Linked DNA regions of Homo sapiens. The protein of the gene in region 1 interacts with the protein of each later gene in a pairwise test. Each region holds a gene or a part of one and is shown on either strand. Other genes may lie near its edges.

What was found.
Region 2: the proteins of LAMTOR3 (region 1) and TFE3 interact in binary tests that used the Homo sapiens proteins (3 or more experiments, as listed by UniProt).

What each region holds. Positions count from the first base shown.
Region 1 is NC_000004.12:99,891,427-99,898,634, reverse strand, and holds the start of LAMTOR3 (ragulator complex protein LAMTOR3), read left to right. Parts: upstream 1-4,207; 5' UTR 4,208-4,300; intron 4,301-4,634; 5' UTR 4,635-4,671; coding exon 4,672-4,680; intron 4,681-6,600; coding exon 6,601-6,635; intron 6,636-7,208. UniProt on the Homo sapiens protein: As part of the Ragulator complex it is involved in amino acid sensing and activation of mTORC1, a signaling complex promoting cell growth in response to growth factors, energy levels, and amino acids.
Region 2 is NC_000023.11:49,040,338-49,047,550, reverse strand, and holds the start of TFE3 (transcription factor E3), read left to right. Parts: upstream 1-4,193; 5' UTR 4,194-4,324; coding exon 4,325-4,440; intron 4,441-6,982; coding exon 6,983-7,096; intron 7,097-7,213. UniProt on the Homo sapiens protein: Transcription factor that acts as a master regulator of lysosomal biogenesis and immune response.

The DNA of each region.
Region 1 (7,208 bases):
TATATTTATTAATGCTTTACATTTTTACCCCTTTTTGTGTAAACACAAATACACCCATGCATATACACACAAACATTATTGTCCTTGTGAGGGTTTGGGGGAAATGAAAAATAGTACCTTTCTCCTCTTCTTTTGATTCCTTAGTTCCCAAATAGACTGGTGCTAGTCATTTAGTCATCTGTAAATTTCGAAATGTAGTTTGATTAAATGTGAACTGAATTCTCAGCAATGAAAAATGTCAAGTTGAATTCATCTAATAAGTGAAAATAATATATTTTGTAAACAGATTACATTTGAACACCTAAATAAGTATTTGTTTCATAATCATTACATGCTTGTTTATGATTTACAAAGATTTGGTAGAGAAAAGTACAGTCCTTAAGGCATATATATGCCAATGCATTAAACTACTCAGCTTTTGTGCCAGCTCAGGTGTTCATAGGAACAGGAATGTGGAATACCAGCTTTTTACTTTAATTATACTTTTATGCTGAATTTTTCTTCCAGTTAAACCTTTAATTACACTAGTATGTAAAGTAGTTACTGAGAAAAATAAGTTTTTGATTTCCCTTCTGTTGATCTGTAACATTTTTAAATGAAGCTATTTAACACATGACATGCTAATGTTACTTAATGGATTCCTATGTATTTCATTAAAAAAAAGTCTCCCACCTGTGTTAAGACAGCTAAATATTTCTTGATGTTGGCTTGAGGACCAAGTGAGCCATCTTGCCAGTTAAGCAAGTTTTATATCAGAGGACCAAATGGTTAAGAAGAGAATTTGTACATTTCTTGAGCTTCCCCATGTGAAGCTTGGGTTCAGTACTATCCTATTACTATCCATCTTCATAATGAGTGAAGCAAACTGAAAGGGAATTCATAATCTTTTTTCTTATCTGAACAGAAAAACTAATGAAAATCAACAATAAATCTTTATTTTAATTTTCATTCAACAGCTGAAAAACCATGTCTGTTGACCACATTGGACCATTGCCTAGTTAAAATCCATAAAATTCCCTATAAACCAATGAAAAGAAACTTGTCTGGCAATAATTTCCAACATTTTAAATTCTAATTTTTAGTTACAAAGAAAAAGGATAGAATGAGGCTTTTCAAGGAATTCTTGCTCATCCCTTCAATTATTTGGCAGGTAAAACAGTCCTAGAATTCAGCTTCCTTTTTGGTTTTATTACTATTAAATAGATACTTTCATATAAATGGAAACACTTTTCCTCAAAACATTAATTCAAAACATACTCCTTATATTAAGGATTATAGCACCATATTTTTTGTATATTCCCTATGTGTAACTTTTTCCTGTTGGTATGTGATATTTTTCATTTAATATGACTATCTGCTGGTGTTGGGGCCAATAGATTTGTGAATATTCTGTGGATGTGTCTATGTATAGGTGTATATATATATATATATATTTTTTTTTTTTTTTCCCAGCTAATTACCTCAAATGTGTGATTGTTTAATATATACCACACTATGTTTGCACAGAGCAGGGCTTCCATTAGCAGTGGATATTTTTATGTCTGACTTTGAAAATCAGTCAACACAATTTCATTGGTGTGAATTATTTGTTGCTCTTTTTCATATTTTAATGGAGAGATTCCTATTATAAGGCCCATGCTTCAAACATAATTATATCTTTCTATATCCAGCCATCTGGAAATACATAGGGGTAAGAAGTATTTCTTGAAATGTCCTTGTTTAGTAAGTTAGTAAAAACTGGGATGACTAGTTGCCAAGATGTCTTGTAACTGCATAGCAGATGACACCTGGCATGGCAAGTCTCATTCACTTCAGCACAACACTCTGTACATTTCAGTCTGATATTCTACTTTGCCATTTAAGGACACCATTAAAATCATAGAGATTTTCAGTGACATTGGAGTATTGTAATTATTACTTTCAAAAAATTATTTTTAATAGGATGATTAAACCAATGAGAAGAAACACACATAAATGATATTTTGCAGTTTATCTGTATTAAGAAATGCTTCTTGCCAATTTCTAGTTTTAGTTTTTGGATTGCTACATAAGACTTTCTTTCCATTTACTTTATGTGTTTTTAAAAGCTGCAGGTAATTTTTAAGGTTTGATGGAATTATAATGGAAGCCTTGTATAAGTTAAATGAAATTGGTAAAGGAGAGCTTACTTTGTCTATAATGCATTCAGGATTAAAAATTAGATTTCAAAATGAAATGTCTGATTTGTAAAATATTTAATGTTATATCAGACTTACATAAAATTTTCTGTGAGAACTCAAATGCATTTGATTTTTAATGAATGTTCTGAATGAAATATGAATTTTTGTCTTTCAGTCTCTGTAGTTTATCTCAATATATTAATAAAAAGGTCTGTTCTCACTGTAAAATGTTTGTTTTTATCATGTTTTATACTCAATATGGCCACTCTTTCATTCATTCAACTATTCAACAAGTATGTCAATGCTTGCTATATCCCAGGCAGTGAGCTGGGTGCTGGGAATTAATCACTGAATAAGAAAGACAAAAACCTTAAAGAGTTTACATCTAGCAAAGAAAATAAATATCAAGTAAATAATTATAATTATGATAAATTCTACAAAGAAAATTACAGGGTACAATGAAAGCATTTATCTAGAAGACCTAAACTATTCAGTGAGGGTCAGGGAAGGCTTCTCTGAGAGTGAGTTTAAGCCAAAATGCAAAAGATGAGATTAGTAGGATTAAGGTATGCTAGAGAAATATCTCAGGCAGAACGTGCTAAGTTGGTAAAGTGATAAAAATCTTTATGGAAGTGAAAACAAACTTGTATGATCATAGCATAAGGAATCCAGGGTAGGTGAGAGAATTAAGATAGGGGCCAGATCCCCATAAGAATGATATATAAACCATGATGCTGATATTGAACTTTATCCTAAGTCAATAAACTTGATTTTCAAGGAAGGAGTTAAATGATGTGATTTGGGTCTTTAGAACATCATTTTTGTTGCTGTGTGGAGACTGGAGGGCAAAAGAGAATGTAAGAAGAATAGGAGGTTGTTGTCAAAAGAGAGATGATCATGGCTTGGAGTAGGGTAGGAATATAGATAGGTGAATAGTTTTCAAAGATAGGAGGTAGAATCAACAGAACTCTGATTAGATTTGTGACATATGGAAGCAGCAATTGAAAACCAGGCTAAAGTTTTCTGAAAATTTGGCTATGAAAGGGAGTAGAGGAAAAACAGTGTGGTAGCTGAAAGAGGATGCGATTTCTAAAGAAGCTTTTCTTTTGAGGGTCTCGCTCTGTCACACAAGCTGGAGTTCAGTGGGGCGATCACCACTCGATGCAGCCTCAAACCCTGGGCTCAAGGGATCCTCCTGCCTCAGCCTCCCGAGTACCTGGTGCACGCCACGTTCGGATAATTCTTAATTATTATTATTATTTGTAGAGATGGGGTCCTATCTTGCCAGGCTGCTGTGGAACTCCTGGGCTCAAAGGATCGTCCCGCCTCGGACTCCCAAAGTGCTGCGACTACAGGCGTCAGCCACCGCACCCGGAAAGCCTTTTATTTTTTTCAATTATTATTTATTACATGAGACCTTACTAATTTTTAAAAATTCTGATGTAAAAGGGAACATAGAAGGTGCCCGTAATCAGTGTCTGCATGTTAAAAGTAGACGCTTGAAGTGCTCCAGAAAACCCATGGCTCCTCCCCATTCAATCTAGGTAAGGCCTTCAGTAAAGAGCACCCATGGGGAAGTCACAAGAGCCTAGGAAACAGGTCAGAAACCTGTGGACCTGGTACTTCCAATCACAGGCAATCTGGTGCTTGCTCTTCAGCTCATCACACCATCCCCTCAAATTTCTTCATCTACAAGAAAAGGTTTTAAGATAACAGACCCTGCAAAACTAATGACATTTATACACCCTCTCTGCACAAGAATGTCTTGTAACACATAACCTTGCTTGCATTTTCTGGGTTCCTTAGGGTCCAGCGATCTCGTACAAATCTACCCCACAGCTGACTTCCTTCGGCCCGTGACACAAGGCGCAGGCGCAAGACGCGGCCCGCGGTGGGCGGGGGAGGGGCGGGGCGCGTGCGGGGCGGGGGGGAGGGGAGGGGCGCGGCCGCCGGACGCGCCCTCGCAGCTTCCGCCGGGCCCCTCCGGAAATCCCGTATCGTAGGGCGACGGCGGCTTAGAAAGTGCTTCCTGGAGCGCAGACGAGGTCATGAATCATGTGACGGTGGCTTGAGGAGGAACCTGTCTTTAAAGCTGTCCCTGAAGTGACAGCGGAGAGAACCAGGCAGCCCAGAAACCCCAGGTAACTGGCGCTACTTTGCCTGGTTTTGAGGCCTAGTCCCGCAGGTGGCGCGGGTGGTGAGATTAAACAGAAGGAGAGGACCCTCTCTTCTTTTCTTTGGGCCTAGCTCTTTGGGGTGGAGGGGCAGGGATGGGGTGGGCTGAGGTAAGGTGTGCCAGCTGAGTACCTGTGGGGGTGCTGGGGCACTCCGACTCCCACTGGGCTCGCTGGGCCAAGCCCTAGAACCGCGGGGGTTTTACCTGGTTCTGACCAGGGCTGATCTCGCGTATTAAGTTGTGGGTGGGGAGGACGAGGAAGCCAAAGAGGGAAGAGTCACCGGGAGTTTCTCTTCCAGGCGTGGAGATTGATCCTGCGAGAGAAGGGGGTTCATCATGGCGGATGTGAGTGACACCCCTACATAAGAGGAAGGGGAGAGTGGGGAATTTTGAGGGGCATACTGAGCGGGGAGAGGTAGAACTTCCCAAACAGAAATTTGTTTTGATCCTCCCAGCCCCACCCATCCCAGTTAATTATTTTCTCTGATATCTGAAGTGGGAGACTAATATGAATGAATTTGCAGGATCCTGAGTTTCTGCCTCGAATGGGGGTGTAGGACACTAAGGTGCTTGAGACTGAGAAAATTAGGTTCTCCCTACTCCCCAGTCCAGCTGGGGCATAAGAGAGGCTCTGTATATTTACCATTTGAAATTCTGAATGATGGTTTGCTGCTTTTCCTGTCAGAATTTGGTCAGTAGGACATGTACCCACAATACTTTTTTCCAGTAAGTGATAACAATATCTCATTTGGTTTATTGTAGCAATTTACGATGATTTCTAACCCATGCCTCTTTAGAAACATGGTAACGTGTGTGTGTGTGTGTGTAGGAGGATAAAATGATCAGTCGGGTTTGGAGAATAGTAAGTGCTGGATGCTCAAAACAAGAGATACCTGATTAATCCATGTGAGGTCAAAATTGATACCTAAATTGTCAGTGAAATTCCTGGGATAAGAGAGTGTAATGAGACAAAATAAGATAGTCTTCTGGCCAATGCGGTTGCTTAGTCTGTAATCTCAGCACTTTGGGAGGCCGAGATGGAAGGATCACTTGAGGCCGGGAGTTCAAGATCAGCCTGGGCAACATAGCAAGACCCCGTTCTACAAAAAGAAATTTAAAAATCAGCCAGGCGCATTGATACCTCTGTAGTCACAGCTATGCTGGAAGTGAGGCGAGACGATTGCTTGAGCCCAGAAGTTGGAAGTTGCAGTGAGCCCCAGCTTAGAAAAATAAAATAGTCTTCTACTTCTTTAGTCTTAACTGTGTTTCGTGTTAAACACTTGACACACATTGTCATTTATTTTATATTCTGTAACACTGGGCTGGGCGCGGTGGCTCACGTCTGTAATCCCAGCACTTTGGGAGGCCAAGGCGGGTGGATCACCTGAGGTCAGGAGTTCGAGACCAGCCTGGCCAACATGGTAAAACGTTGTCTTTTCTAAAAATACAAAAAATTAGCTGGGCATGGTGGCAGGTGCTTGTAATCCCAGCTACTCGGGAGGTTGAGGCAGGAGAATCGTTTGAACCTGGGAGGCAGAGGTCGCAGTGAGCCGAGATCGCGCCATTGCACTCCAGCCTGGACAACAAGAGCGAAACTCCGTCTCAAAAAAAAAAAAAAATGTTGCCTCACATAGTCATATAGAATTTATTTTAGGTCCTTAAACAAAATATTTTAAAAATTACGTTATAATAATATGCCTTACACTGTTTCATTATTTGTTGAGTAGGTGAGTTCAACAAATAATGAAACAATGGAAGGCATATTTTTATAATGTGATAGTCACGTGAGACAACAGTCTTACAGAGGTCATATCACCTTACCCAAGACCATTAAGATGATGGTGGAAAGTCTATCTTTGAACATGGAAAGGTGTTTATAACGTCTTCTCAAGTGAACACAATAGCAACAGGATGTAAAACACTAGTATGAAAATTATGATGTAATTTTATGGCTAAAATGTGTTTCCCATTTCTAGGTATGCTAATCCATGCATCTTCTCAATAAACTTTTAACAACACTTTTATGATGTAGGTTCTATATTAGCCCTATTCAACAAATAATGAAATAAGCTTAGCGAAAAAAGGTTGGTTAACTTACTCCAAGTTGCGTGACTAGTAAACATCCAAATCAGACAGAGAAAGATAAAACACAGCAAGAAAGGTTATGAATGATAACTGAAGTTCCTTAAAATTTGGATAGGACAGGATCTAGAAAACAGTGGAAGGCCTATTATTACAACATTATTTTTTAATGCTCTCTTTCAGGACCTAAAGCGATTCTTGTATAAAAAGTTACCAAGGTAAGAAATTTTTAATTTGTTATTGAATAAATTCTATATGCCATATGTTAATTTTATGAAGCATTTTGTCTGTATTTTCCATGTTGTGAAGTATCTCTGAGATTTCCTTTAATATGAATATTTTTTGCCAGCCTCACGTCCTCTGGAAAATTTTCGTCACAACCGCTTTCCTCATTTATGTCAATAAGTTTGCCTTCACTGAGTTCTCTGTGTATCTAGAGCGATAGTGTCAGCATTCCCTTGGTCATCTGTTTCTTCTATAATTCTTTACTTTCTATTTGAAATTCAGCATTTCTATTTGAAATTTCAGCATTATTACTTTTCATTTCTTTGCTGTATTTCGTCTTTGTTGGCCAGTTTCCTCTTTTTATTATCTCTTTTTCTAAATGTCACATACTTTATCATTGGGAGACAAGGAGGTACAAAACTACATGCTTTGCTATCTCTGCATGAGCTGCATAACAGATGCACAGTGACCAACCATCAACATACTTTGAAAGAAATGATGTGGCTGGTTACTGATGACAGTGTGCATCTGTTAATTACATAATTATTTATGTAGTGATTTGTGGA
Region 2 (7,213 bases), on another chromosome or scaffold:
ACCCAAACTCACCCCCAAGCCACCTTCAATCACCACTCATATCTATCCCTAAATACCCCCAACTTCACCATCCAGCTGCCCTCCCACTTCGCTCCACATGTCCCCTTCACAGCACCTTGAAGTTGTCTTGCAGTGAAACCCCAGATAAGGTTGCAGTGAGCCGAGATCGCACCACTGCACTCCAGCCTGGATGACAGAGCGAAACCCTGTCTCCAAAAAAAAAGAAAGAAAGAAAGAAAGGAACTCCAACTATATGGCAGGGGTGCAAGTATTGAGAAAGTTGAGAATGAGATATTGATAGAAACTAGGGCCGGGCATGTGGCTCATGCCTTTAATCCCAGCGCTATGGGAGGCCGAGGCGGGCGGATCACTTGAGGTCAGGAGTTTGAAACCAGCCTGGCCAACATGGGGAAACCCTGTCTCTACTAAAAATACAAAAAAAATTAGCTGGCCGCGGTGGCGGGCACCTGTAATCCCAGTTACTTGGGAGGCTGAGGCAGGAGAATCGCCTGAACCCAGGAGGCAGAGGCTGCAGTGAGCCGAGATAGTGCCACTGCACCTCAGCCTGGGTGACAGAGCGAGATTCCATCTCAAAAAAAAAAAAAAAAGAGAGAGAGAAAAAGAAAAAAGAAGTCCGGGTGCAGTGGCTCACGCCTGTAATCCCAGCACTTTGGGAGGCCGAGGCAGGCGGATCACGAGGTCAGGAGATCGAGACCATCCTGGCTAACATGGTGAAACCCCGTCTCTACTAAACATACAAAAAAATTAGCCGGGCATAGTAGCGGGTGCCTGTAGTCCCAGCTACTGGGGAGGCTGAGGCAGGAGAATGGCGTGAACCCGGGAGGCGGAGCTTGCAGTGAGCCGAGATCGTGCCACTGCACTCCAGCCTGGGCAAGAGCGAGACTCTGTCTCAAAAAAAAAAGAAAAAGAAAAGAGAGAGAGAAACCCAGAAAGATGCAGGGTAGGCATATCATGCAGGGTGTCATGGGATATCACTTGTCATGGAGACATTTGAGATGCGTGTGTGAAGCTGGTGTTTGTAGGATTGGGATGTGTGACAAGATAATTACTCTGTGGCTCTACTGCTATAAATATTTGTTGCCAGTCTGTTGTAAGTCTTTTAACTTTGTAGCATCTTTCATCAGACAGTATGTAGTTTTATTTATTGATTAATTGATACAGAGTCTCATTCTGTCGTCCAGGCTGGAGGGTAGTGGTACAAACACGGCTCACTGCAACTTCAAACTTTCCAGGCTCAAGCGATCCTCCTGCCTCAGCCTCCCAAGTAGTTGGGACCACAGGTGTGCACCACCATACCTGGCTAATTTTTCTTTTCTTTTCTTTTCTTTTTTTTTCTTTTTTTCTGAGACAGAGTCTCACTTTGTCCCCAGGCTGGAGTGCAGTGGTGCAATCTCGGCTCACTGCAACCTCCGCCTCCTGGGTTCAAGAGATTCTCCTGCCTCGGCCTCCCAAGTAGCTGGGACTACAGGCCAGGCGCGTGCCACCATGCCCAGCTAATTTTTGTATTTTTAGTAGAGACGGGGTTTCACCATGTTGGCCAGGATGGCCTCAATCCCTTGACTTTGTGATCCTCCCGCCTCAGCCTCCCAAAGTGCTGGGATTACAGGCGTGAGCCACCATGCCCGGCCTAATTTTTTAAAAGTTTTTTTGTACAGACGGGGTCTCCCTATGTTTCCCAGACTAGTCTCAAACTCCCGGGCTCAAGCAATTCTCCCACCTTGGCCTCCCAAAGTGTTGGGATTACAGGTGGGAACCACCCCGCCAGACCCTCCTCTTTCTTCTTTTGTAAAATTAGCCATTCTTACATGTTTGTTTTTGTTTTTTTTGAGACGGAGTCTAGCTCTGTCTCCCAAGCTGGAGTGCAGTGGCACGATCTTGGCTCACTGCAACCTCCACCTCCCGGGTTCAAGCGATTCTTGTGCCTCAGCCTCCCTAGTAGCTGGGATTACAGGCGCACGCCACCATGCCTGGCTAATTTTTTTGTATTTTTAGTAGAGACAGGGTTTTGCCACGTTGGCCAGGCTGGTCTTGAACTTCTGACCTCAAGTGATCCACCTGCCTCGGCCTCTCAAAGTGCTGGGATTACAGGCGTGAGCCACCGCACTGGGCCATTGTTTTTGTTTTTGAGACAGAGTCTCACTCTGTCGCCCCAGGCTGGAGTGCAGTGGCGTGATCTCGGCTCACTGCAACCTCCGCCTGTCGGGTTCAAGCTATTCTCCTGCCTCAGCCTCCCGAGTAGCTGGGACTACAGGCCAGGCGCAGACCACCACGCCCGGCTAATTTTTGTATTTTTGTAGAGACGAGGTTTTGCCATGTTGGCCAGGCTGGTATCGAACTTCTGGCCTCAAGCGACCCACCAACCTTGGCCTCCCAAACTGCTGGATTACAGGTGTGAGCCACCGTGCCCGGCCCATTCTTACATGTTTAAGGCATCATAGGAATTTTAACATTGGATCTACAAGTTCCGTTTTAGAGTTTTGATTGGTACAATTGGTAATGTATTCTTTTTTCTTTTTTTTTTTTTTTTGAGACTGAGTCTCACTCTGTCACCCAGGCTGCAGTGCAGTGACACTATCTTGGTTCACTGCAACCTCTGCTTCCCGGTTCAAGGGATTCTCCTGCCTCAGCCTCCCGAGTAGTTGGGATTACAGGCGCCCGCCACCACGCCCGGCTAATTTTTTGTATTTTTAGTAGAGACGGGGTTTCACCGTGTTGGCCAGGCTGGTCTCAAACTCCTGACCTCAGGTGATCCACCCGCCTCGGCCTCCCAAAGTGCTGGGATTACAGGCATGAGCCACCGCGCCCGGCCAGAAGTCATCTTTATTATGTAGAGGTTTCCCCCTTGTACGAGATGGTTGTGTGTGAGTATGGATGAGTTTACGAAAGCAACTGACAGACCTGTGAAATAATGATGCCAATACAGGAAGGTCCAAGGTAAATGAAAGCCCGGTGAAATTCCTGGAGGCGCAACTCAGGGTGGGGTCTTGGGATGTCAGGAAAGAGGAAGGGAAGGCTGTAGGTCTGGGTGTTTTGTGAGCTATTTGCACCTGAGGATATATGAGTGAGACCCTCCGCCTTGTGCGAGCCGGCTTGCATGCGTCTGGCATACAGAAGCGCTCAGTGAATGTTGAATAAGTGAACAAATGAGTGAATCAACTAATTTTGGGAAGCTTCTTGTATGCCAAACAACCTGCTAGCACTTTTCATACATTATCTTTAATCCTCAGAACAACCCTGCCAGACAGGTATTTTGACCCCCATTTAACAGGCCAGGAAAGCTGAGGCTGGGAGAGGGGAGGTCCCCTTCCCTATTCAAACCTGGATCTTTGTGATTCCAGAAGTCGTCATTCACCGAAGGGACCAGATTCATTCACCCGTCAAGAATTTATTAAGCACATATTGCGCAGCGCAATGAACATAGTACAACCGCTCTCGATGGCATGGAACAGGCGGAATACTCCCGGAAGACCAGCTGGGCGGCTGGACTGCGGACAGCGAAAGGGGGGGGTTTCTGGCCCGCACCTTCAGGGAATGTAGCTGCCTCTGCCTCATAGTTATGGCTTTGGCTGAGAGAGCACAGCCAGATCGAGGTTGGAGCGCGGTCTAGGGCTCAGATATTACAAATATTGGCCGAAAGAGGGCGCGGTTCCGCAGCTAAAAGCTTGGCCAGGAGACCCTCCGTGCGCCGACTGGCCATCGATGCGCAGGCGCAGAGGACCCAAGGAGCGGCTTAATATTACCTTGCAGAGGGATAATTTGAGAAGAGAGGGCGTGGCTCCGAAAGCGACGCAAACATAGAGGCGTGGTTCAACCAAATCAACCCTCGCCTATTTGTCGCTGCCCCTGAGGGCGTGGTCTGGGTGCTGCTTCTCGGAATGAGGGCGGGCCGAATCGCGTTTTTCCTCCGCGTCGGAGGCGTCGCTTAGGGTGGGCCCTCGAATCGCCGTTCAGCGATTGGCCGCCTCGCTAATGGGTCGTGGCCAGACGGGCCATCCATCCCCAGTGCGGTCACTTCCTGTGGAGTTTCCCCATCCCTGGGAGGAGGGAGGAGGGGGAAGAAGACGAGGGGGAGGAGGGCGGTCGTCCGGGGTTAGGTTGAGGGGGGGCGTCGGTCCGTTCTGGGCGGGGGATGACTCACAGCCCATCCCATCTCCCCGACGCCGCCCGCCCGCGCAGTGCTAGCTCCATGGCTTAGCGGAGGAGGCGGCGGTGGCGAGCTGGGGGGAGGGGGGACTCTTATTTTGTTAGGGGGACCGGGCCGAGGCCCGACCGGCCTGGCAGGGCTCGCCCGGGGCCGGGCGTCATGTCTCATGCGGCCGAACCAGCTCGGGATGGCGTAGAGGCCAGCGCGGAGGGCCCTCGAGCCGTGTTCGTGCTGTTGGAGGAGCGCAGGCCGGCCGACTCGGCTCAGCTGCTCAGGTGCGGGGCCGCCTGGGGCTGGGAGTGCCGACTGGGGCTCCCAGGGGCCTGATCTCGGGGGCAGTGGGGGCCCCGGACTGGGATTGGAGGCCCTCGGCCTAGCCTTGGAGGACGTCGGGGCGCCCGTCTTGGGGGGGCACCTAAGGAATCCGGCAGTGGCCTGCTTGGATTGTGGCTTTATTAAAGGAGTCGTGGGAGTGCATTAAGCGGGGTCTGGGTCAGGTTTGGGGAGCCCTTGACTGCGTCTAGAGGGGCCTATTCTGGAGTATCCAGAAACTGGTCTGAGATAGCTGAACTTGGTAGACAGGGTCTCTGATTAGAGGCTGAATTCGGGGATTTTCAGTCGGACATGAGGGGAATGAATTTGAGGGGACACTGTCAGGTGAGGCACTGGTTTTAAGGGAATCCTAGAATCTTTTTTCCCTCAGTGTGGGAGAAGGGGTCCTGAGGGACAGAAGTGCTGTCTTGGGAGCTTGGTGCCTCTCAGTGACTGGTTGCTGTGTTTGGGGATAACATGAATCTGGAGGGATTTGGAGGTATCTCAGATATGCTGCCTGGGACCAGCCTTGTGAGTGCGTGTGAATGAACAAGAGAAGCAACATTCAGCAAGACTTGACCAGAATAATCCTTTCCCCTCTGCCCGCCTACCCAGCTGGGGCAGATCCCAAGGATAGTGGAAAAGCCCTCTTCCCACACCTGTTAAGGGCCTGAATGGAAGATAGACAGCCAGGCAGAGGGCGATGATGTTACCTCTTAGCTCAGAGGCCTCAGACCTTGTTTGGGAACCCAGAGGAGGCTCTTGTTCATGCTGCTACTCGCTCTAGCCTCTCAGCCCTTCCCACTCCCTAGCCCCACACCCCTTTTCTTTTTATCTTCTTTTCGATCTCCGAGCTCCTGGGGGTAATCTTGAATCTGTCCATAGAGCTGGAACGAGTACAGATTGCACCATCCCTGCCTGGGTGGATCCCCTCTGGCCTCTTCTCATCCTTACTTTCATCAATGGGCTTTGGAGCCCCAGCCCTCCCTGCTCACCCCAGTGCCCATCTCTTCCAACTTCTGTGCAATGGGTGTGTGAGCCCTGGGTGGGGGGGGGTCTTTGCCTCCTTTGTGCCTGGGATTGTGCTGAGCTCAGTGGCTCGCCCGAGCTTCCTCTTCCCAACTTCCTGGGTGGTTTTAGGGCTCCATCTGAGGGTGAGGAGAGGAAGGAAGACAGATCCTTGGGGAGGGGAGAGGATTCTTGTCAAGTGAAGTCACCAGCAATCTCTCAGCATTCTAAATGTTTAGCTAAATTGAAGGATGCATATTCATCCACGTGTGTGTTAACTGTCCCTTGCTCTCTGGGGCTGAGCAGAGCCTTTCTGTATATCGATTCACCATCTTCTAATTCCTCTGTAACAACCTAGATCATCGCAGTAGTGGACATAGTTAAAGGGATGGGTGTATATGGCTTCTTATTTTGTGCGCCAGTGGGTGTTAGTGTTGGGGGTGTGTGTGTGTTTTGATCTATCCAAAAAAACAGGAGAAGGCTGGGCAGGCTCCTCCGGTAAGAAAAGAATGCTTGTATAAAGTGGATCAACCACCCAAATTCTCCCTCTTGTAAATCCAGTCTGTTGGAGCGAGGGGAGCCTTTGATATTTCTATTTTATATTTAGGCATGTGTTGGCATCCCATGAACTCTGGCTGGGGCTGGGAGAAACTCATTTGTGAAATGGTAGATCTTTACGTCAAGTGAATTATTTCCAGTTCTCTTTGTGATGCATTCAGTTTGTGTTACAAGGGACTGTTATGCTGAGGGATGCCCCTACTTGCTCTGTGTGTGTGTGTGTGTACACACATATACCTGGGCTCACATTCAGCTGTAAAGAAAATAGCAGGGGGTTGGCCGGGCGCAGTGGCTCACACCTGTAATCCCAGCACTTTGGGAGGCCGAGGCAAGCGGATCTTGAGGTCAGGAGATCGAGACCATCCTGGCTAATACGGTGAAACCCCGTCTCTACTAAAAATACAAAAATTAGCCGGACGTGGTGGCGTGTGCCTGTAATCCCAGCTACTCGGGAGGCTGAGGCGTGAGAATCACTTGAACCCAGGAGGCAGAGCTTGCAGTGAGCTGAGATCGCACCACTGTACTCCAGCCTGGTGACAGAGCGATACTCTGTCTCAAAAAAAAAAAAAAAGTAGGGGGTATGGGGGCTGGGAGAACTCTGAATAGGAAGTCAGGAATCCTTCTATAAAGTGAATTGTTATTCCTAAATTCTGTTTTCCTCAAACCCAGGTTGTTACAGTGTGGGGGTTGGGATGCAGGCGTTCTTATTATTCTGACTCCTAAGGGACTATGAGTAACACAGTGGGGAAGGGAAAGGGGGATGGGGGAAGGAGGTGGGAATTCATGGTGGTGTGGTACCCAGCAAGGTGGCCAAATATGAGGGGCTTGTACCCTCCTCTTCGTTCTCCCCCCCTCTCTCTCTCTTTCTCTGTCTCAGGGGAGGGCTGGGGAATAAGGTCCTTCATTCAATCACTGACCACCACTCCACCTCCCCCTCAGCCTGAACTCTTTGCTTCCGGAATCCGGGATTGTTGCTGACATAGAATTAGAAAACGTCCTTGATCCTGACAGCTTCTACGAGCTCAAAAGCCAACCCTTACCCCTTCGCTCAAGGTATGTATGACTTGTCTATCTGATTCCCCTCCCAATTCCTCAGCCCTCCTCTCCCCTCTTGATGGGCAGAGGCCCTCAGTACCAGCCCAACCCATTCTTTCACCAGCCTGCGTTTTC